Regions from separate parts of the Homo sapiens genome. Here regions 2 and 3 are each linked to region 1. Evidence: fine-mapped expression QTL. A gene starts in region 1. Each other region holds a variant in brackets. All regions are shown on one strand. Distances are between the middles of the regions.

Region 1 (7,309 bases):
TTATGGATGCTAGCCACCACAAAAGCTCCCCTGGATCAGTGATCCCCTGGATCAGCTGCACAAAGGAAACAGGGAGACCCAGCACTAATCACTTGGACATATTAGTTCACATTTCCCCCACAAAAAGATAAGATGCCACTACAAATAGAGGTGAGCAGACAACAGTGGCCCTGAGGCAGCCAGACAGCCCCTGCCATGTGCATCTCTTCATCAGATACTCATCAAGTGGCTCTGGACATCATTCTTGGTGCCATTTCCTTCCAAAGGTCATCACGTGGTCCAAATGTCTGCTCCAAAACAGGGGCACACTAATTCTCACATACAAACTGGTTATACACACACGGACACACACACACACACACACAAACGGACACACACACACACACCCACGCAATAAATGAATTAGCATGCAGGTCAGATGAGCATGCATGTCTGTACAGACCTGCACTCTTCAATATGAAGGCCACAGGCCACACGTGGCTACTGAGCATGTGAAATGAGGCTAGTCCAGGTTGAGAGGTGCTATAAGTGTAAAATGCACACCAGATTTTGAAGAGAAATACTCACTAGTATAAGAAGAGAATGTAAAACATCCCAGTAATTTTTAGATCAGTTACCTGTTGAAATGGTAATATTTTATATATATTGAGTTAAATAAATTATGAAAATGAATTTCACCTGCTTCTTTTTAATGTGGCTACTATAAAATTTTAAATTATATTTGTGGCTTGTATTAATCTCCATTACACAGTGCTTGGAGTACAAATTATCTTTTTAAAAGTGAGGAAGGAGAAGAAAAGCAAGTAGCAGGCCTAGAGACTAGTATCCATTAGACACCTAAACTTAAACAAATGTCTTCCCAGGACTCTTATCAAAAGAGAAGAAGAAAAGCCAAGCAGGAGAGTGGGGAGATCACAGGCTTTGGAATGTGGTGGCCCCGGGAGGTTCTATCATCCTTAGCTATGAAACCCAGGGACAACTACTATGACTTCTCCAAACCCCCTATTCTACTGTAAAATAGCAACAAAAATAATAGGCTTGGGAAGTGCTTTAGAGCTTGCTACATACTACAGTCCCTAACAGAGGATCGATACTGTTGGTGCAGCTGCATGGAAACTGTAACCAAGAAGAGACCCCTGCACCTCTCCAATCGCTACCTTTGTATCCACCACTTGCCCTCCCCTACCCACCACCTCTCAACTTAACCTTCCCAAACACAGCACAGACTATCTGAGTCACAATTTCAAAAATATGTCCCTTAAATTGCTCACTCACATCAGAAAAATGATGACTTCCTCTGGTATTCAGTACCCAGCCTGCCCTCAGAGAATCAACAAGTCAAGTGTGCCCCAAAATTCTGCTCTAGTGAAAGTAAGGACTTCCTCCAGCACCTCATATTAAGCCATTCAAATTTATCACTGTGGATCATCTAATTCTATACATGGATCAAGTATCTTTTTCTACAAAAACTTCTGTAAAGAAAAGCCAGGTGCAGTGGCCTGGGCCTGTCGTCCCAGATGCTTGGGAGGCTGAGGTGGGAGGATAACTTGAGGGCAGGAGCCTGAGGCTGCAGTGAGCTATGATTACGCCTGTGAATAGCCAGTGCAGTCCAGCCTGGGCAACATCGTGAGACCCCATCTTTAAAACAAAAAAAATCGTGGCTCACGCCTGTAATCCCAGCACTTGGGAGGCCGAGACGGGTGGATCAGGAGGTCAGGAATTCAAGACCAGCCTGGCGAAGATGTTTCTCTACTAAAAATACAAAAAAACTAGCCAGGCATGGTGGCAGGCGCCTGTAATCCCAGCTACGCAGGAGGCTGAGGCAGAGAATTGCTTGAACACGGGAGGCAGAGGTTGGAGTGAGCCGAGATCGCGCCACTGCACTCCAGCCTGGGCAACAGAGCAAGACTTGGTCTCAAAAAAAAAAAAAAACAAAAAACAAAAAACTTCTGTAAAGAAATTTCAGAAGCTTATTTAAAAAAAAGCATTATAAGTTGTCTGATTTGAGAAAATAAAAGAGCCTTTTCTCATGAGAATTATCAAAGACTTCTCACCAACTGAACAATCACTGCTGCGTCACATGCAGACAATTCAACGGAATCAAAAAATACACAGAAGCCTCGCAGACTCACCTGGGATGTGCAGACTTGGGCCTGCTGTCCTACTGCGGCATGGAACCAGGATCTTAACGGAGGGCTGAGTTTGGTTGGGCAGGTGCTACGCGGAGCTCCTGAATGTAAGCGCTCCTGGACTGTGGCCTGTTCAAACACCGAAGCCGCAGAGCGGGCGTCAGAGCCTGTGGGAGGGACAGGGAGACCATCAGTGGAGGCGACTCTTCCTGTGCCTTCTCTTCAGCTACTTCCCAGGGATGCGGCGCGCACCGGGAACCCTCTACCACGAAAAAGCCGTCCAAGGAGCATCCACGCGTGCACTCAGGATGAGGCGGGTGGACCGTACTACCTCATCACCAGTTGTTGTAATGCACACGATATGAACACCTTAACCTTGACCCCAGACAAGCCCAGAGAAGGAAAACCTCCCCAACACCTGCCAGTCAGCTCCAGTCTAATCTTATTTCCAAAGAGTAAGAGGTAATAAATCCCCAAGTTTTGGATTTAATGAACCAGTAAAACTTCAATAACAACAACAACAAACCTCAGGGAGTAATAGGAGTTGCCAAAATTTTGCTTTGCTAAGTGTGGATTTTCTCTTTCATTACCATCTACGATCACTATGATTACATAAAATTAAGGTTCGTAAAAACAGTTTACAGTGAAAACATTCAAACACACAGATGGAGAACCGCACAGGGAGCACATGAGCCCCCCTTATTCAGCCTCAGTAACTACATCTGACCCATCCTGAGTCACTTCCCATCCCCAGGTAATTCTACAGCAAATCTCAGACCTATGACTTCATCCATAAATAAAAGCATACCAACTCCCGAAAAATGTGTAAGGAAATGATCTCAGAATAAAAGCCATCTACAAAGTGAAGACATCCAGTCGTATTAAAAACTCCCCACAATATCACTGCTTTCGGTTAGGACTCACATCTACCCTGGAAGGTGAGAACTCTGTCATGCACAACCAACGCTTGAGAACCACTTAGGGAGGGGATAAACGAACCTTGGGAGATGTAACCCAGTTTCACTCGAGATAAGTAACTTTGAACTTAACCCACTCCTTAATGTAGATGCAGAGATTTTGAACACAATTTTTCAAGTGGGACAGGTCAATCTCTACTTCACCAATTCCACCTAAAACATTAAGCAATAACCTAAACAACGCTCGCTCGCTCTCTGACGTGTAGGAGCCCGAGACAAGTGTTCCTGTAATCACTAGCAATCCCTCCGACGCACACACCATCCACACTCTACCCAACTCAGGAAGGATGCTCTCTCTTGTCCAAGGACAGCACAGGCCTCATCCACATTTCCACCTGCGCGAACCCCAGCCAGCACCATTTAGGCTCATTCCCGCTCCCTCCTCCTTCTAAAGTCACTTTTCCAGGATGAACTGCAACGGACGCTCGCAGGGTCAACCACGTGCTGGGGAGAGGAGCCCACGGAAGCAGCGGCCTCCCGGGGCCCAGCGCCGCGCTCCAGGGGCCTCCCGGGCGACTCCGCAGCGCCTGCCCCGAGCCCGGCCGCGGACACAGCGACCCGAGCACCTCTCCCCGAGCATGGCTCCGTGGCGAGCGTTACGTAAACGGGGGCGCGCGGAGTCTCCCCTCTCGTGTGTCTGGGTTTGGCGGCCGCCACTCCAGCCCCAGGCCCAGGACCCCCACGCCACCCGCCAGAAGCAGCAGCATCGGAACCGCACCCCGCCCCGGGCTCCATGGCCTCCTCCGCAACCACGAGGAAGGTGCCCGCCCCGGGGCCGCACCCGCCCCGCTGAGCTCTGCGGCCGCACGCGACGCCCTCGCCCTGATTCCGACTTCAACCTCTCCGAAGTTGACCTGAATCCTGCACAGACAGCGGGCCCCGGCGACCCCCATCACCGGCCCGGAGCCCGGGGGACGGCGGAGACCGGCGAGGACAGCCCGGCCCCGGACCCTCCTCGGGAATACCCGGGCTCTGGAGAAGCGAGCTCGCGAGCGGGCGGAGCATCCCGGGTCCTCCTCGGGGACGGCCGAAGCCCTGCGCGGACCCGCGCCCACGTTCTCCCTGAGCGTCCCGGCTGCGCCCGCCAGCCCTTCCCGCGCCCCAGGCCTCGCGGAACCCCCCGCCCCGGTCTCGTCCCCAGGCCTGCGCACCGCCCCGACCCGACCCCAGCCTACCCCGGCCTCTCCGCGGGCGCGCCACAAGCCTACGCAGCCCTGGCGACTCCTTCGGCCCGCGGCCCAGCACGCGCACCATCCGGGCCTCCGGCGCCTCACACACGTGTCACCGCGACGCTTAAAGGCGCCGCACCCAGCGTTCGCGCTGCGCTAACTCCGAAAGGGTTGGGAGGCTTTAAGAGGCGGGGCTAGATTCCGCTAACTCCCTGTCCCCGCCCACCGCCGCTTCCGTGTCGCCTACGTCACCTCCCCATCACGGGACCCCGCCAGCCTACGTGATGACGCAAGTGCGCAGAGCCACAGGCGCTCCCGCCCCTGTGCCGCGGCAGGGTGACGTCTCCGCAGCGCACTAGAGGTGCCGCTACTTCCGGGTCGGCCGAGCACACCTGGCGGCGTGGCGGACGCCTGAAGTGTGACAGTGGCGCGCGCCCCCGCCCCAGAACGGGGACTCGAGGGACTTTGCCCACCCCTGCAACAGCCCTCCCGCGCTGTCTCCCGGGCAGGGAGAAGGCTGGGCTCCCCCACCTGCCCCTGGCCGTCAGGTGGCTGTGGAGAAGCGGAGGCGCGGGCGCTCGGCCTTAACGTCCCGGGCTCTGGGGCCATCCGTGACTCCCACACGCGGAGCACCTGCAGTTTGGGGAGGGAGGGATCTGGGAGCGATCGGCCAAAGCCTGGGGCTGCCGAGGAAATGGCTCTTCGGAATTAGGGATCTGAGAGTGTGAGATTTGACCTTTGTAGGCTGGTGGCGGCTGTGCAATCTCTAGCTCCACCCACTCCCTCCAAAAGCTTTGTCCTCTGACAGCTCTGCGAAGGTTTTAGCTGAGTATTTGTGAGCACGTATTTCTTTTGCAGTATTTTTAAAAATCCTCTTGATCTGAGGCAACTTCGCTGGCTTCCTCCCCATTCCCTTGGGCAGGTTGAGAGTGTTGGTTCCTGGCCTGACCTCAGAAACTCAGAGAAGCACAGGATGGGCATAAACTACTTTATCCAAAAGGCAGAACTTTGCAAACACAGTCGTATCTGCTGTGTCTTTTTTGATGTAAGTAGGAATGATGAGTAGGGTGAAGTCACAGGTAAACAACCCAAAACGAATTTCCATGCCCTCCCCACGGATCCTAAAGCAGGGACTGGAGATGGGGAGAGAGGCTAGATGTACTTGGAACAAAATTCACCTTGTATTTATTACCTGGGCGCTGGTGTTTTTTGAAAAAAGCAAACAAGATAACCATATTAGTCTGATGCTGAGACTATGCCCTATCTGTAAGAATCCTTGGGCTGGGCGCGGTGGCTCACCCTTGTAATCCCAACACTTGGAGGCCAAGGTGGGCGGATCACCTGAGGTCAGGAGTTCGAGACCAGCATGGCCAACATGGTGAAACCCCGTCTCTACTAAACATACAAAAATTAGCTGGGTGTGGTGGTGGGCGCCTGTAATCCCAGCTACTCAGGAGGCTGAGGCACGAGAATCCCTTGAACCTAGGAGGCGGAGGTTGCAGCGAGCTGAGATGTCGCCACTGCACTCCAGCCTGGGCGACAGAGCGAGACTCCGTCTCAAAAGAAAAGAAAAGAAAAGAAAAAAAGGCAGGGCACAGTGGCTCACGCCTGTAATCCTAGCACTTTGGGAGGCCGAGGCAGGCAGATCGCTTGAGGTCAGGAATTCCAGACCAGCCTGGCCAACATGGTGAAAACCTGTCTCTACTAAAAATACAAAAATTAGCTGGGTATGGTGGCGCACGCCTGTAATCCGAGCTACTAGGGAGGCTGAGACAGGAGAATCGCTTGTACCTGGGAGGTGGAGGTTGCAATGAGCTGAGATCGTGCCATTGCACTCCAGCAGCCTGGACAACAGAGCAATACTTGGTCTAAAAAAAAAAAAAAGAAAGAAATGCAACGTAGGTCTCTCACGAAATTAGCCCAAATCTTCAGCCATCTTCTACAGGCTGTGAAACCAGGAGAGGAATTGAGTCCATCTTACCTTGACCTCCCAGGCAGGGAGCGGACCAGGTAATTTTTGGGTGACAATACAACTATTCTGTTAATGCACCTTTTTCTTGAGGTAAGTTCTAATGTGATCCGTTTTGGTTACAGCTTTCTATAACAGAATATTTTATTCTTTCATCTTTAATGTTTCTCTAGTTTTCTCTTTTAGGATTTAGAGATCATTCAGTCTCATCTCAAATATTTCAATTTCCATGTGGTTCTTTCATAAACATTTATCCACAGTGAGCCTGCCCTGCATTCTTTGGGTGTGGCTGACAGTTGCAGCCACCCTCAGGTCTGCGGGGGTGGGTGTGTTGCCCCTGAACTGCAATAGCAGAATTTCTCCCTAGCCTGGCAGGGGAGTGCAATCGTGGACTTGCTTTTCCACCCGCTGGGGTTGCATTTCATAGGTGCCGAGTGCCTGGGGGGCCCAGGCCTTTTCACATGAGGGTTTTCAGCCCAGATGTCCCTCCTGCTCTAGGGGAACCCTTCACATCAGTCAGGTGACTTGCTGGACTGGTAGAGCCTCTGCCATCAGCCTCTGATGCAAAACCTTTTCTCAGGTGTCTGTGCGGTCCATGGAGACCCGAGTTCCCAGGTTTGGGAGGGATGCCACTTTCCTTAGGAAGAACAGCAATGTATGTCGTCCTTCCCATCCATGCAGATGGGACAGGGCTCTCAGGAAATCTGCCATTAGCATCGCCCTAGAAGATGCACAGGCAGAGGCAGCTGCTGGGCACAGGCACTTGGGGAAGACAGGAGCCATGACGCCACGCCACCTGTTGGTACCCAAAGGAAGTGGCTCTTTTGGCTGCTTGGCACCATTCTTATGACCCTTCCATTTTGTTTCTAGTCTCAGAAGGGGTGGAGAAAGTCATCCTTCCTAAATGGTGTTGACTCTCAGACATCTGACCGTGCCAGGAGAATGGCTGTGCAAGGCGGCAGCCCAGGCCCGGGCAGGTGGCGGCCAGGAGTTGGGACCACAGAGGGCACTAGCAAGAGCAGCAGCTGCTCCGAGATGCTTTGGCACAAGTCAGGATACGTATTT
Region 2 (7,309 bases), 51 kb before region 1:
AGGAGTTAAGTCAGTTTCACTCTCGTATCTTGTATTTGTGCCCCCAGCCCTTGGAGCGTAATGAGAAGGAGCCGGCGGCAGGGAGACAGGAACCACAGGACTCCACTCCAGCTGTGGATTCTAACCCAGACCTCTTCCCCCACATCCACTAATTCTTCACAGAACCTTTAAACTGGGTGTGGGCTCTCTGCAAGTTTCGCTGTGGTTTCTAAGTCCTTAGTGGTTGATCCACTTGACAACTAATTTTTTTAAGTTGGTAGCTCCCTGCGGTATTTGACAGTTTTTGGTTTGGTTTTGTTTTTGAGACAGGGTCTCACTCTGTTGGCCAGGCTGGAGTGCAGTGGCTCATGGCTCACTGCAGACTCCACCTCCCAGACTCCATCGATCTTCCCACTTCAGCCTCCCAAGTAGCTGGGACTACAGTTGCACGCCACCACACCCAGCTAATATTTTATTTATTTATTTATTTTAGAGACAGGGTCTTTCCATGTTGTCCAGGCTGGTTGTGAAATCCTGGGCTCAAGTGATCCACCCACCTTAGTCTCCCAAAGTGCTAGGATTACAGGCATGAGCCTGCTCCTGGCCACCCTCTGGTATTTTCCACTGTTCCTGGCACATACCTCCCTTAGCTCTTGTTACAGTCTTTTGTTATAATGTTGGTTTAGGCCTCAGGAAACAATCTCTCTGGCCTTCTCTTGTTCTTTCACCTGCCCCAAGGCAGGACTTTAATCTTGCCCACCTTTCTGATTGTGGGTCTTAAGACCCTCCCCAGAGAGGGTCCTGCCCTGTGCCCTATGGAAGGAAGCTTCCATAAAAATTTCCATTAAAAAAAAAAAAAAAAAAAGACTGGGCTAGGATAGCTGAACATGTGGAGGTTCCTGGAGGGTGATGCCTAGGGAGGGCTTGGAAGCTCTGTGCAAGGGCCCTTCCCCATCTCTTCATCTTTATCCTTTGCAATATCCTTTATAATAAACCACTAAATGGCCAGGCGTGGTGGCTCATGCCTATAATCCCAGCACTTTGGGAGGCTGTTGTATCACCTGAGGTCAGGAGTTCGAGACCAGCCTGGCCAACATAGTGAAACCCCGTCTCTACTAAAAATACCAAAATTAGCCGGGCTTGGTGGCGGGTGCCTGTAATCCCAGCTACTCGGGGGGCTGAGGCAGGAGAATCGCTTGAACCCGGGAGGTGGAGGTTGCAGTGAGCTGAGATCGCGCCATCACACTGGGGGACAAGAGCGAGACTTCGTCTCAAAAAAATTAAAAACAAACAAAATACTAAATGTAAGTGTTTCCCTAAGTTCTGTGAGTGGCTCCAACAAATTAATCAAACCCAAAGAGCGGGGGTCATAGAAATCCCAAGTTTAAGGTGGTCGCTCAGAACTTCCAGAGGCCCAGGCTTGTGACTGCTGTCACAAATGCAGTCTTGGGGACTGAGCCCTCAGCCTGTGAGATCTGACCTCACTCCAGATAAGAGTCCAAGTTGGACTGGATGAGAGGACCCCCAGGTAGTGTCTGCTGCTTGGTGTGTGGGGATAAACCCCCACGCCTCTGGGCAGAGCAGTCTTCTGTGAAGATTGTTGTGAGGTGAGAGCAGACCATAGTTTGAGAGTTTTTCCCGAAACATTCCCCCTTCAGCTTCCCTGCTTTGCCTAATAAAAAGAATTAGAAAGGTTTTAAGCAGAGGTAACCCAAAATATGTTTTTCCTATGCTTATACCATGGTTTTATTTTATTTATTTATTTATTTTTTGAGACTGAGTCTCGCTCTGTTGCTCAGGCTGGAGTGCAGTGGTGCATGATCTCAGGCTCACTGCAACCTCTGCCTCCCAGGTTCAAGCGATTCTCATGTCTCGGCCTCCCGAGTAGCTGGGATTACACGCACGCGCTACCACGCCCTGCTAATTTTTGTATTTTTAGTAGAGACGGGGTTTCACCATGTTGCCCAGGCTGGTCTTGAACTCCTGACCTCAGGTGATCTACCCACCTCAGCCTCCCAAAGTGCTGGGATTACAGGCGTGAGTCACCATGCCCGGCCCTATACCATGGTTTTAAAATGTCTTCAGGAACCACCTCAAAGTTTATCAATAGCAAACAGGTTAACTATATTAGGATACTTTCATACAAGGAAGCACCCACAGGCTTCAAAAGACTGAAACAGATTTCTGTATTACCAACAGAAGACAATTTCCAAGCTATAAGTGAAAAAAGCAGTCAGAACGGTGGTATATAATACAGAACCATTTGTAATCAAAATCAATGTATACATGCTACTCGTTTACAGGTGTATATTCAGTCGCTGAACAAATCTCCGTTAGGGGCACTGTTCGTGTGCTGGGAACACACAGGTCAATGAAGAGCAGCCAGAAAGCCCCAAGCTCTGGAGGCTTCCACTCTCGTGAATCAGCACCGCTTGATCATCTGTGAGGTAGAGATTGGGAGCCACATTTAACTCTGAGAAGAGAACCTTTCCATACTGTTATGGGTTGAGTCATGTCCCAACAAAAGATATGTTGAAGTCCTAAGCCCCAGTACCTGTGAATGGTGACCTTATTTGGAAGTGGGGTCTTTGCAGATGTAATCAAGTTAACATGAGATCATTAGGGTGGGACCTAATCAAACAGGACTTGTGTCCTTACAAAAAGAGGGAGATTTGGACACAGAACGGAAAGATGGCTACGTGAAGATGGAAGCACAGTGGAGTGATGTGGCCACAAGCCAAGGAATTCCTGGGAGAGGCTGGATTCTCCCCCACAGCCCTGAGGACACCTTGATTCCAGACTCTGGTCTCTCTCTGGCACTGTGAGAGAACATTCCCATTGTCTTAAGCCACCCAGTTTGTAGTCCTTTGTTATGGCAGCCTCAGGAAGCGAGTACATGAAGCTCTGCAAGTTGTGTTTAAAATTGCATATGCATAGGTTATTTTATTTATTTATTTTTTTTTTTGAGACAGAGCCTCACTCTGTCGCCAGGCTGGAGCGCAGTGGTGCAATCTCGGCTCACTGCAACCTCCGCCTCCCAGGTTCAAGCAATTCTCCTGCCTCAGCCTCCCAAGTAGCTGGGACTACAGGTATGCGCCACCACGCCCAGCTGATTTTTGTATTTTTAGTAGAGACAGGGTTTCACCATGTTGGCCAGGATGGTCTCAATCTCTTGACCTCGTGATCTGCCTGCCTCGGCCTCCCAAAGTGCTGGGATTACAGGCGTGAGCCACCGCACCCGGCCCTGGTTCCTTTTTCTAAAACAAGTAATTCTATTTCGTTACCTTTATGTTCTCCCAGCTGGTTGGTGGGGCAGTGGGGGTGCCCAGCTTCCAGAAGGTGCAAGCTGGAGGGTCTCAGAAGAAAGGCAGGACTGATGCCCACCCTGACCCTGTGTGCTACAGGAACAACAGACAGCCCACCCGCATCTGCTAGAAGGCATGAAGGAAGGAAGGGCCAAGGACGAGATGTGGAGGGACTCGGGTCCATGGGGTAGGTATTGCTGAGGCCATCAGAACACCAGACACCAGGACATCATCTACGGCCTCCCCTCCACCAAGGGGAGAATTGTCAGCCACTGCCTGATGTCATTCCCCTCCACCAAGGCCAGAATGCTGCCTCTTGCCAGAGGTGGGGAC[G/A]GGAGGGACACTGAGGACTGAGATGTCTGGGGACAATGCTGGCTTCACGAAAGAGAGATGAGGCCAGGTGCGGTGACTCACGCCTGTAATCCCAGCACTTTGGGAGGCTGAGGCAGGCAGATCACGAGGTCAGGAGTTCGAGACCAGCCTGGCCTATATGGTGAAACTCCGTCTCTATTAAAATATGAAAATTAGCCGGGCGTGATGGCATGCACCTGTAGTCCCAGCAACTTGGGAGGCTGAGGCAGAAGAATCACTTGAACCTGGGAGGCAGAGGTTGCAGTGAGTCGAGATTGCGCCATTGCACCCCAGCCTGGGCAACAAGAGAGAAACTTGGTCCCAAAAAAAAAAAAAAAAAAAAAAAGGAGATGAGGTTTAGCTGGGCATGCCAGCCTTCACTTGCCCAATCACTGTGTGAGTGATTTGTACGCCCTGAGACCAAGCGAAAGGTATGATCTAGAGGTAGCAGCTTTTCTAGAAGCCAGCCTCTGACCCCTCCCACCCAGAAGGAGTAGGCTGAACAGTGGTTAGACAGGCCTTTAATTCAGGGTTCTTCAAAAAGTGAATAAATAGAAGACAGAGGACTCAGCAGCTCTGCCAGGGAGCAAGCCTCCTGGACTTGCTAATTTTGCAGCATAGACCTTGCAGAGAGGGTGGAGCCTGGTGAAGAAGGGGTGTTAATCCCCGCAAGAGGCTGCAAAGCGAACTGCTCACACAGGCTTGGATTGGGGCATTGTCTTGCTTTGAAAACCCCCAGATTTTATTTTGCTAAAGCTTGCAATTTCTTCTGTGTGTAAATGACACTTAAAATCTGTTTGTAATGGAACTTGATTGTATCCAGCTGTCACCAACTGTTCCCTGTGCCACCCAAAAGACAGCTGGCCACGTGCCACGGTTTGGGCGTTCACTTCAAATAGAGGAGCTAGTGCTCTAGTTCCTGCTAGACTTCACCAAAATGTTTTCACTTACGCAGAAAAACAAAGGGGGTGCGGGTAGGGCTCAGGGAAGGCAATGTGAAGGGGAATTAGTGCAGTGTGGACTGCGGAGCCACTGACTTTGATGGACGGTGGGCTGGCTGTTTTCTGAGCAGGGTCCGAATGCAGTCACAAAGTATGCTGCCTTCAGCAGCTGCTCCAGTTCACTCATTCAACAAATATTTACCGGGTGGCTGGTAAGTGCTAGGCCTTGCCAAGAGAACTGTAGCCACATAAGACAGAAAAATGGCAGAATAATACCTTTTTTTTTTTTTTGAGACGAAGTCTCGCTCTGTCATCCAGGCTGGAGTGCAATAGCGCGATCTCAGCTCACTGCAACCTCGGCTTTCCAGGTTCAAGTGACTCCTCTGCCTCAGCCTCCCTGAATAGCTGGGATTACAGGCACCCACCACCACGCCTGGCTAATTTTTGTATTTTTAGTGGAGATATGGTTTCTTTTTCTTTTTCTTTTTTTTTAAAGACAGAGTCTCACTCTGTCACCCAGGCTGGAGCACAATGGCGCGGTCTCAGCTCACTGCAACCTCCACCTCCTGGGTTCAAGTGATTCTCCTGCCTCAGCCTCCCGAGTAGCTGGGACTACAGGCGTGTGCCACGAGGCCCGGCTAATTTTTTTTTATTTTTAGTAGAGACAGGGTTTCACTATGTTAGCCAGGCTGGTTTTGAACTCCTGACCTTGTGATCTGTCTGCCGTGGCCTCCCAAAGAGCTGGGACTACAGGTACAAGCCACCATGCCTGGCCTTTTTTGGCTGGTCTCGACATCTTGGGCTCAAGCAATCCTCTCATCTCAGCCTCCTGAAGTGCTGGAATTACAAGCATGAGCCACTGCGCCCGGCCAACACATTCATTTTAAAATGGCCTTAAAAAAATCACTGGTTTATGTAAAAGAACTTGAATTTCCTACACACATTTCGCAGCAAGTATTTGCCATGTACTTAGACTGTGTGTTGAAATCTGGTCTCATGATGGTAAGAAGCTACCTAAATACCTAGATCCTGCTTAAGGGAGTGGCAATCTTGTGACCTGTTTCTCACTCAATGTCTAATGGATATTTGGCAGCCATGTCCTGTTGCTTCCTCTAATCAACACCCTCCTAAATGAAGCAGTAAGGGAGAAAACCAATGAAAACACGCATGCAAGACATGTATCGTGAGAGTGACAGCTGACAATCATGATAATTTGAATCTAACCTTTGCATTTTAGAGGAGAAAAGCAAATTCATGATGCTAACTCATGGCAGACCCCTTAGAACACAGGTCTTGATTCCCAATCTGGCCTTCTTTTTTTTTTTTTTTTTTTTTTTAGCTGGAGTTTCGCTGTTGTTGCCCAGGCTGGAATGCAATGGTGCGATCTCGGCTCACCGCAACCTCCACCTCCCGGGTTCAAGCGATTCTCCTGCCTCACCCTCCCAAGTAGCTGGGATTACAGGCATGCACCACCATGCCCGGCTGATTTTGTATTTTTAGTAGAGACGGGGTTTCTCCATGTTGTGTCCTGACCTCAGGTGATCCGCCCCGCCTAGGCCTCCCAAAGTGCTGGGATTACAGGCATGAGCCACCGTGCCCGGCCCTGGCCTTCTTTTTATAGGAAGTCATGATTCAAACCTGACTCCAGCCTGACCCTACTTTAATCCCTTTAAAGCAGCAAAAATATACAGCAGTTTCCCCTTGAGAAAGCAACTTGAAGCAACAGTTTGGTACAGATTCTGCTAAGAACAAGCACATTTTTAATCTCAGGCCCCTCTCACAGGGCAATTTCCTCAATGCCTGGAGTGCTTTCTGAGATCCCAGAACAACGGGCTGGACAGCTGCCCAGAGGCCTCTAGGGGGCTGTGGAAGGCTGAAGAGGCAGGGGGGATCTGGATCACAAAATAGAGGAGACTATTTTCTCTGAACAGGAGTGAGAAACCTTATGTTGGGGAATGATTAGATTCTGGTTTCTTGCCTTAAAAGATTGTCCTGGAGGCCAGGCACAGTGGCTCACACCTGTAATCCCAATGCTTTGGGAGGCCAAGGCGAGAAGATTATTTGAGGCCAGGATCCTATACTGAGGGGGCACCTCTTTCAGTGTCTACAGTAGAGATCCTGACAGAGGGTGGATCGGTCGGCTGTTCAGTGGGATGTATTGACTGGATCAGTTGATTCTGGGCTTGATCTAGAGTATGCAGCAAATGCAACAGGCTCACATCTTAGAGGAGCTCTCCAGGGTGCGGAGGTCAACAGTGTCAAATCCTGGGAAGAAGTCGGTGGCAAGAGTGGGAATTAGGTCACTGAGAAGTGATGATGGCAGAAGCTAGACTAAGAACCACAGAGAGTCAACACAGAGCAAAATGAATGTCAACCAAAGGAGAGGGCAGCTGAGAGGGGACACAAGGACACACAGGCTTTTTAGGATGGGAGATGCCTGAACATGTTCCTAAGGGAAGAGTGAGACACGGGAGCAGACAGGGTAATTAATGGAGCAAGGTCCCCAGGGTGGAAGAAGTTGGCCTCAAGGGCACAGGTGGGGTGCCAGCATACACAGAGGGGGCACCTCGTCCAGCATCTCCAGTAGAGGTCCCCACAGAGGATGGGGAACAGCCCCTATACTACAGTTCCTTCCCACTCTCCCACACCAACCACCCAGCCCCTCTGGGAGGCATCAGATCAGAACAGTGGGTCTGCCCAGCAGCAGCCCCGGGGACTATTGGACATGCACAT
Region 3 (6,154 bases), 37 kb before region 1:
AAGCTAAAAACCAAAAAAAAAAAAACCCTCCAAAACCCCTTTAACCAGTAGTGTTAAGTCCTCAGTCTGACAGAAGGAGAGAAGAGAACTAGATCTAAATGGAATCCACCTCACCTACGGGAGAGGCCCATGCCCCAGGACCAGCCTGACACCTGGATGGCCACAGGGGTGGAGGGAACGGCCAAGCTTGGCTGCTGCCATCAGGGGCCCGACCTCCTAAGCCCTGTCCAGGGGGAACCTGGTCCCCATCAGCAACACCGCACAGGTCCACCCAGCACCTCGGGACCAGGACAGCACTCACCACCCTCATCGGGTTCTAGAAACCCTTTCTGAACTCGTCCTCTGCCCAGCTAGCCACATAGCCCCTGGAATATACTCACCTCCCTTCACACAAATCTGACCTCATTTCTCCCTGCCTCCAATTCCTCAGTGAGCTCCAGGCTAAGTGTCCCCTGCCCCCACACAGTGGCTTCCATGGTTCCCATCTCATCCACACAGCCCAGGGACCCGGCCATGCAGAGCAGCCTGCCTGCTCCCAACGTGCTGCGCCTCCTGCCCTTGGGTCTGGTGCCCTGCCCATTTAGCCACTCTCCTCAGGTGCACAGGACTGCAAGAGCCCATGCGGCCCCCAGCGCCTCCTTGCTGAGCATGAGCCCTTACTGTGTGGTTCTGGCTCTGCCAGGGAGCCCCGAGGGCCCAGGGCGCACTTCAGTAGACACAACCAGCACCTGGCATGGACCCTGGCGCACCGCAAGTGCTCAAGTGATGTCCCTTGCACTAACAAGCCAACTCCACTTCGCTCCGAGGGTGGCACGGAGCACAGCTCTGGTGCCATGTTAGGGCAGTATTTTTTTTTTTTTTTTTTTTTTTTTGAGACGGAGTCTCACTCTGTCACCCAGGCTGGAGTGCAGTGGCGCAATCTCGGCTCACTGCAAGCTCCGCCTCCTGGGTTCACACCATTCTCCTGCCTCAGCCTCCCGAGTAGCTGGGACTAGAGGCGCCCGCCACCATGCCTGGCTAACTTTTTGTATTTTTAGTAGAGACGGGGTTTCACCGTGTCAGCCAGGATGGTCTCGATCTCCTAACCTTGTGATCCGCCCGCCTCGGCCTCCCAAAGTGTTGGGATTACAGGCGTGAGCCACCACCCCCGGCCAGGGCAGTACTTCTGAGAGCATGCTGGCCAGCAAACTCAGTCGGCACTAGCTAGCACCCACGTTTTGCTATTTATTTCATACCATTTCATTTTTAACGATAAATTCCTTTCTTAAGAGTTGGATAAATACAAATCAGTCTCTAAGGTCCTGCTGACCCCCAGATGCACTGCCATAATCAGACCTTCCAGACTGCAGAGGAGGCCTCACTCAAGCTCGGCCCCCTATACCAAGCAGCCAGGACTTTCTCTCCCCTTCACTTAACAAATGTGTTCTGTGGCGGGTGCCTGCCAAGGCATGCCCCAGCCAGCCCTAAAGAAAACAAAACACCCTCCGATTGAGGGGTGGTGCCCAAGGACAGCCACAGCACACAGGTCCCCAACAGCAAGCAAACCGTGCTATGTTCTGAATGGCCCAGCTACATAGAGGGAGAGGAGGATTCACTTTTGAACCCAACTCTTCTAAATTCAACCATCACAGAAAAAAACTCAGGCTGGGAGTTCAGGGAGTCATTCCGTGAGAAGCTGTAGACAGAACAGCTTTGAATCGGAAGACCCACTGGCATTCACAGAATGTTTTAAAGTTCATGTGCACTGTAACCTCTCTCATGGGGCTGTTTCAGTCAAATGCTGTGACACATGAGGAAGCTTCAACCCCATCACCCAAGGGAGCAGACTCGGGGGTGGGGGGTGAAGGTTGGTAGGGTCCCAGGGCCCTCCACATCTTCTCCCAGACCCTCCCAAGCTCAGATGCAGTAGACGCTGCTCTCAGCCTGTGCACTCCCCAATACCCCCTCACCCGGTGCACACCCACGCGGTCCCCCACCCCCTTGCCCGGTGCACACCCACGCGGTCCCCCAACCCCTCGCCTGGTGCACACCCACGCGGTCCCCCACCCCCTCGCCCGGTGCACACCCACGCGGTCCAACCCCTCGCCCAGTGCACGCCCATGCGGTCCCCCAACCCCTCGCCCGGTGCACACCCATGCGGTCCCCCAACCCCTCGCCCGGTGCACACCCATGCGGTTCCCACCCCCTCGCCCGGTGCATACCCATGCGGTCCCCAGGACACCAGCCATTCGCGGATGGTGCGCAGCTGCTGGACTCGGGGACAACAGCATCTTGGGGCTTGGCACTCCTTGGGCATTTGAGATGCCCATCCTCTTCTACTGCCCGCTGTGTCTCCTGCTTTCTTTTTTTCTTTTTCTTTTTCCTTGGAGACTCTTCCATGGCCTCTGGATCACCATCACCCATGGGAGAGCAGCTGCTTGGAAGTGAGAGGCAGCAGTCAGCTCTGAGCAAATTGGAAGGGGAGCAGGAGCGCACAGACACCCGCCTGCAACATGGAGAAGGTGCCACCCCAGCTGTGACCCAGTGCACGCAGGTCCCTGCAACATTCTTCCCCCCACACGCATTAGCGGACGCTCCACACGCAGCCACGGAGACAGTAGAGGGAAAACCAGTCGCGTTTCCCATCCTAACTGAGCCAAGCCTGTTGACGCCAATGTGCAGGCTACTGTGACCTGATGAAACGGCAGATCCTGGCCTGGCCCGGGACACCTGATCCAGCATCCTTGAACGGCCCTGCACATACAATGATGGACACTACTGTCCACACCACTGTCGCTTCAAGGATCAATCCACTGGTATTTATCAGAGGAGATATTTTTTCTTTTTTCTTTTTTTTTAGACAGGGTTTAGCTGTCACCCAGGCTGTAGTGCAGTGACGCGATCTCAGCTCACTGCAACCTCCACCTCCTGGGCTCAAACCATCCTCCCACCTCAGCCTCCTGAGTAGCTGGGACTATAGGTGCATGCCACCATGCCCAACCAATTTTTGTTTTTGGTAGAGAAAGGGCTTTTCCATATTGCCTAGGCTGGTCTCAAACTCCTGGGTTGAAGTGATCCACCCGCCTCAGCCTCCCAAAGTGCTAGGATTACAGGTGTGAGCCACCACACCCAGCCAGAGGAGACATCTGATCACAAATCCACATTTTAGAAAACCACGCAAGCAGACTACGTTTCCAGACCATACCTACTTGGGGGTAGATTCTGTGGTTTTGCTTTGTTTCTCGTCAGAGGTAGACAGATGCCACTTTGCTCCTGCCCTTACCTGTGCCGAAGTGGGTCCTGGTGCAGGCCGCCTTCTTCACCAAGACCTTCTGCTCCTTTCCTCCTCCGCTTCCTGCTGCTCGCGTGGTGGCCGTCCGTAACACATCCCACCTGCTGGCCATTCACCTGTGGCTGTGTGCCATCTTCCTGCCGTCTGACAGCGGGCAGCTGTGCCTGGCCCTCCCTCCTGTACATGGGGCTCCCAGGCTGTCTCTGTGTCTGCCCCTCCTGCAGGGCGCTGGCAGCTGTGTCCTCCGGGCGCTTCTTCTTCTTCCTCTTCCTCTTCCCGTGGGGAGCCGCAGTGGCCTCCCTGATGTGCTGTGGGAGGCGCGTCTCTGAGCCCAGCCTCTGCGGCTCTCCCACAAAGGTCTTTTTCCTCTTCTCAGAGGGGCTC[T/C]GGGGGGGCTCACTGGCCTCTGGCAACTGGTGTGGAAGAGACACAAGGTCCTCGTTGACCTGAGGCAGCGCCGTCGAGATGGAGGAGCAGCTCCGTGGTTCTGACGTCCCTGGGGGCTTGGGGGTACTGGACAGCAATGTGGGGTGGGGGCTGAAGGGGGGTTGCAGGCGGCTGGATGATTGGGGAGCAGGTGACACAGCCCTGTGGGGACAGCCAGGAAACAGGGAGAGGATGTTCTGAAAGACCCAGCAGAGCTGTTCCTTCTGTCTACCCTCACTCCCCTCCCTTTCACCTAAAAATCTGAAAAGGCTTTTACCCTGTAGTTTTCAGATACACATTAAGTTACATGTATGTTTGAAAGAAAGCTAACAATTAATTCAACATCTATTTAAATGCAAAGTTGGCCAGGTACAGTGGCTCATGCCTATAATTCCAGCACTTTGGGAAGCCAAGGTGGCTGGATCACCTGAGGTCAGAAGTTTGAGACCAGCCTAGCCAACATGGTGAAACCCCATCTCTACTAAAAATACAAAATTAGCCGGGCGTGGTGGCACACGCCTGTAATCTCAGCTAGTCAGGAGACTGAGGCAGGAGAATCGCTTGAACCTGGGAGGTGGAGGTTGCAGTGAGCCGAATCGCGCCACTGCACTCCAGCCTGGGCGACAAAGCAAGACTCCGTCTCAAAAAAAAAAAAAACCAAAAAAACAAAAACAAAAACAAAAAAAAAAAAACAAAGTTACCTAGGTGGTGGGTTGATAGGTGCAGCAAACCACCATGGCACCTCTGTAACAAACCTTTACATCCTGCACATGTACCCTGGAACTTAAAATAACTGATCCCTGAGATTTAAAAAAAAAAAAAAAAAAAAAAAAAAAAGCAAGCCAACACGTGATTTTAAAAGTCAAAAAAAAAATTTTTTTTTTTTTAAAAGGCAAAGTTAATAAGAATTGTTCCATGCCTTAGTTTCTTGTCACCAAGCAATTCAAGTATTTTTGCGAGCTCTAATGTAAAAACATCTTTAATACAAATGTGTTAAGGGAGGAAACCTTCACGAAACAATAAATGGTAAGGAAAAAAAAGATCCCGTGAGGATTTATTTTCCAACCTCCGAAAGTCTCAGGGTGTTCCCGGGCAGGAAATGAGCCTCATAAGGAAAGCAAGTGTTGAGCTGGCCTAATGACACCTCCACATTACCGTCATTAGGACGCTGAAACCGGGACACAGATGCGTAGAGCAGAATCATGAGCAAGGCGTGTCCGGGACAGGATCTAGTGCCGAACCCAGTGAGGCTCCCTCTTGCCAGCTATGTGTCTCTAGGAAAATTAACTTCCCACTCTGAACCACCATGTTCTCATTTGTCAATGAGCTGGGACCACAAAGCCCACCTCCCAGGGTTCCTGCAGAAAACAGGACCCCCGTCATCATCTAAACAAACTATAAGGGCCATGCCAGCTGCACGATGTTTGATTACTCTAAGTGTCTTCTGGAATCTTTTCCAAAAAAGCTTATAAGGCAAGAAACGAAAAACACCCAAACACTTAAGGCCCTCCCACGTACACAAATCTTATGCTAGGTATAGGGCAGAGGTGTGCTTGTGTGTGTATATGTGAGAGGAGAGTAAGGCAGAGGCTGTGGGCGACGCACAGTCATACCTCGCCCTCATGTAGCACTGGAGATTCTAGAACTAGAACCCAGCGCCGAGGCCACCAGTACAGTCCCCGCAGGCCGCCTCATGACTCACCCCATCTTTCACTGCTTCCGTCCCCACTCCCAGCGGCTTCCAGACAGCCATTTACCAGTTACTCTCAACTTCCTGCCACTCGAGGCACCTAAGAGACGCAGGCAGCCCCTGCGGACCAGGGCCCACATGCACAGGGAAGGGGCTGCATCTCTGGCAGGTGTCTGCAGAGGAACCCGAGAGCCCTGAGACAGTTCTTAACCTGCATGACGCTAGCAGGCAAGACGTCCCACAAAAAACGCTCGGGACTCCGAGCTCACTCAAGCCTCTCGCCAAGGCCTCACTTCGCCTTTCTCTTCGACTGGGAAGTACTGTCATGGGGCTGGTAGGGATACAGGACAGGTCAGTCCCCAGCACACCACATCACCACAAGGATGTCGCAGACAGACCACCAACAAAGACAGAACTAAGACATCAGGACTGCAGAGGCCGAACTGCCTTCACCACCCAAAGCTCCTTTACCACAGGGGAACACAGAAGAGGGGGATCTTGGTCAGTGACGCCCCCCTGTACCTCCTGGCTGCCCCAATGCTTTGTCTGTCCTGTGAGGTTGGCGATTCGTCCAACTCCTCACCAGCCAAGCACACGCAACCACAGGGAGAACCAGTTGGCACCCAGAAGATCCCGGCCCAAAGCTTACCTGGCTCTATGGACGGGCCAAGTGGAGGCAACGACGGGGTGAGAGGTTTTCATGGGGTGGGTGAGGTCGGAGGATGGTGAGGGGGGAGGTGGACGGAGGTCATTGCCGGTCGCCCTCCACA

The links. PIP is the estimated chance that this variant, and not a neighbour inherited with it, causes the effect.
Region 2: its variant is fine-mapped to the expression of USP36 in whole blood (TOPMed, PIP 0.93).
Region 3: its variant is fine-mapped to the expression of USP36 in monocytes after LPS (Fairfax 2014, PIP 0.95). The same link has a PIP of 0.9 or more in NK cells, monocytes and monocytes after interferon gamma.

What each region holds. Positions count from the first base shown.
Region 1 is chr17:78,836,455-78,843,763 of GRCh38, forward strand. USP36 (ubiquitin specific peptidase 36) reads right to left here and starts at 4,360. Exons shown (of 21, transcript NM_001385174.1): 1 at 4,282-4,360; 2 at 2,133-2,296. LOC124904067 (a long non-coding RNA gene) reads left to right here and starts at 4,660. Exons shown (of 2, transcript XR_007065923.1): 1 at 4,660-7,309. RefSeq lists enhancers at 1,814-2,328, 2,329-2,843, 4,438-4,627 and silencers at 3,768-4,287, 4,748-4,847.
Region 2 is chr17:78,785,240-78,792,548 of GRCh38, forward strand. It overlaps a transcript of USP36 not described here. Among named protein-coding and RNA genes, the nearest start is that of CYTH1, 6.6 kb to the left of the region's middle. RefSeq lists a cis regulatory region at 1-238 and an enhancer at 6,036-6,205. The variant G/A (reference allele first, on the strand shown) is at 3,618.
Region 3 is chr17:78,800,123-78,806,276 of GRCh38, forward strand. USP36 (ubiquitin specific peptidase 36) reads right to left here. Exons shown (of 21, transcript NM_001385174.1): 15 at 6,034-6,154; 16 at 3,263-3,856; 17 at 2,202-2,413. Among named protein-coding and RNA genes, the nearest start is that of CYTH1, 21 kb to the left of the region's middle. The variant T/C (reference allele first, on the strand shown) is at 3,656.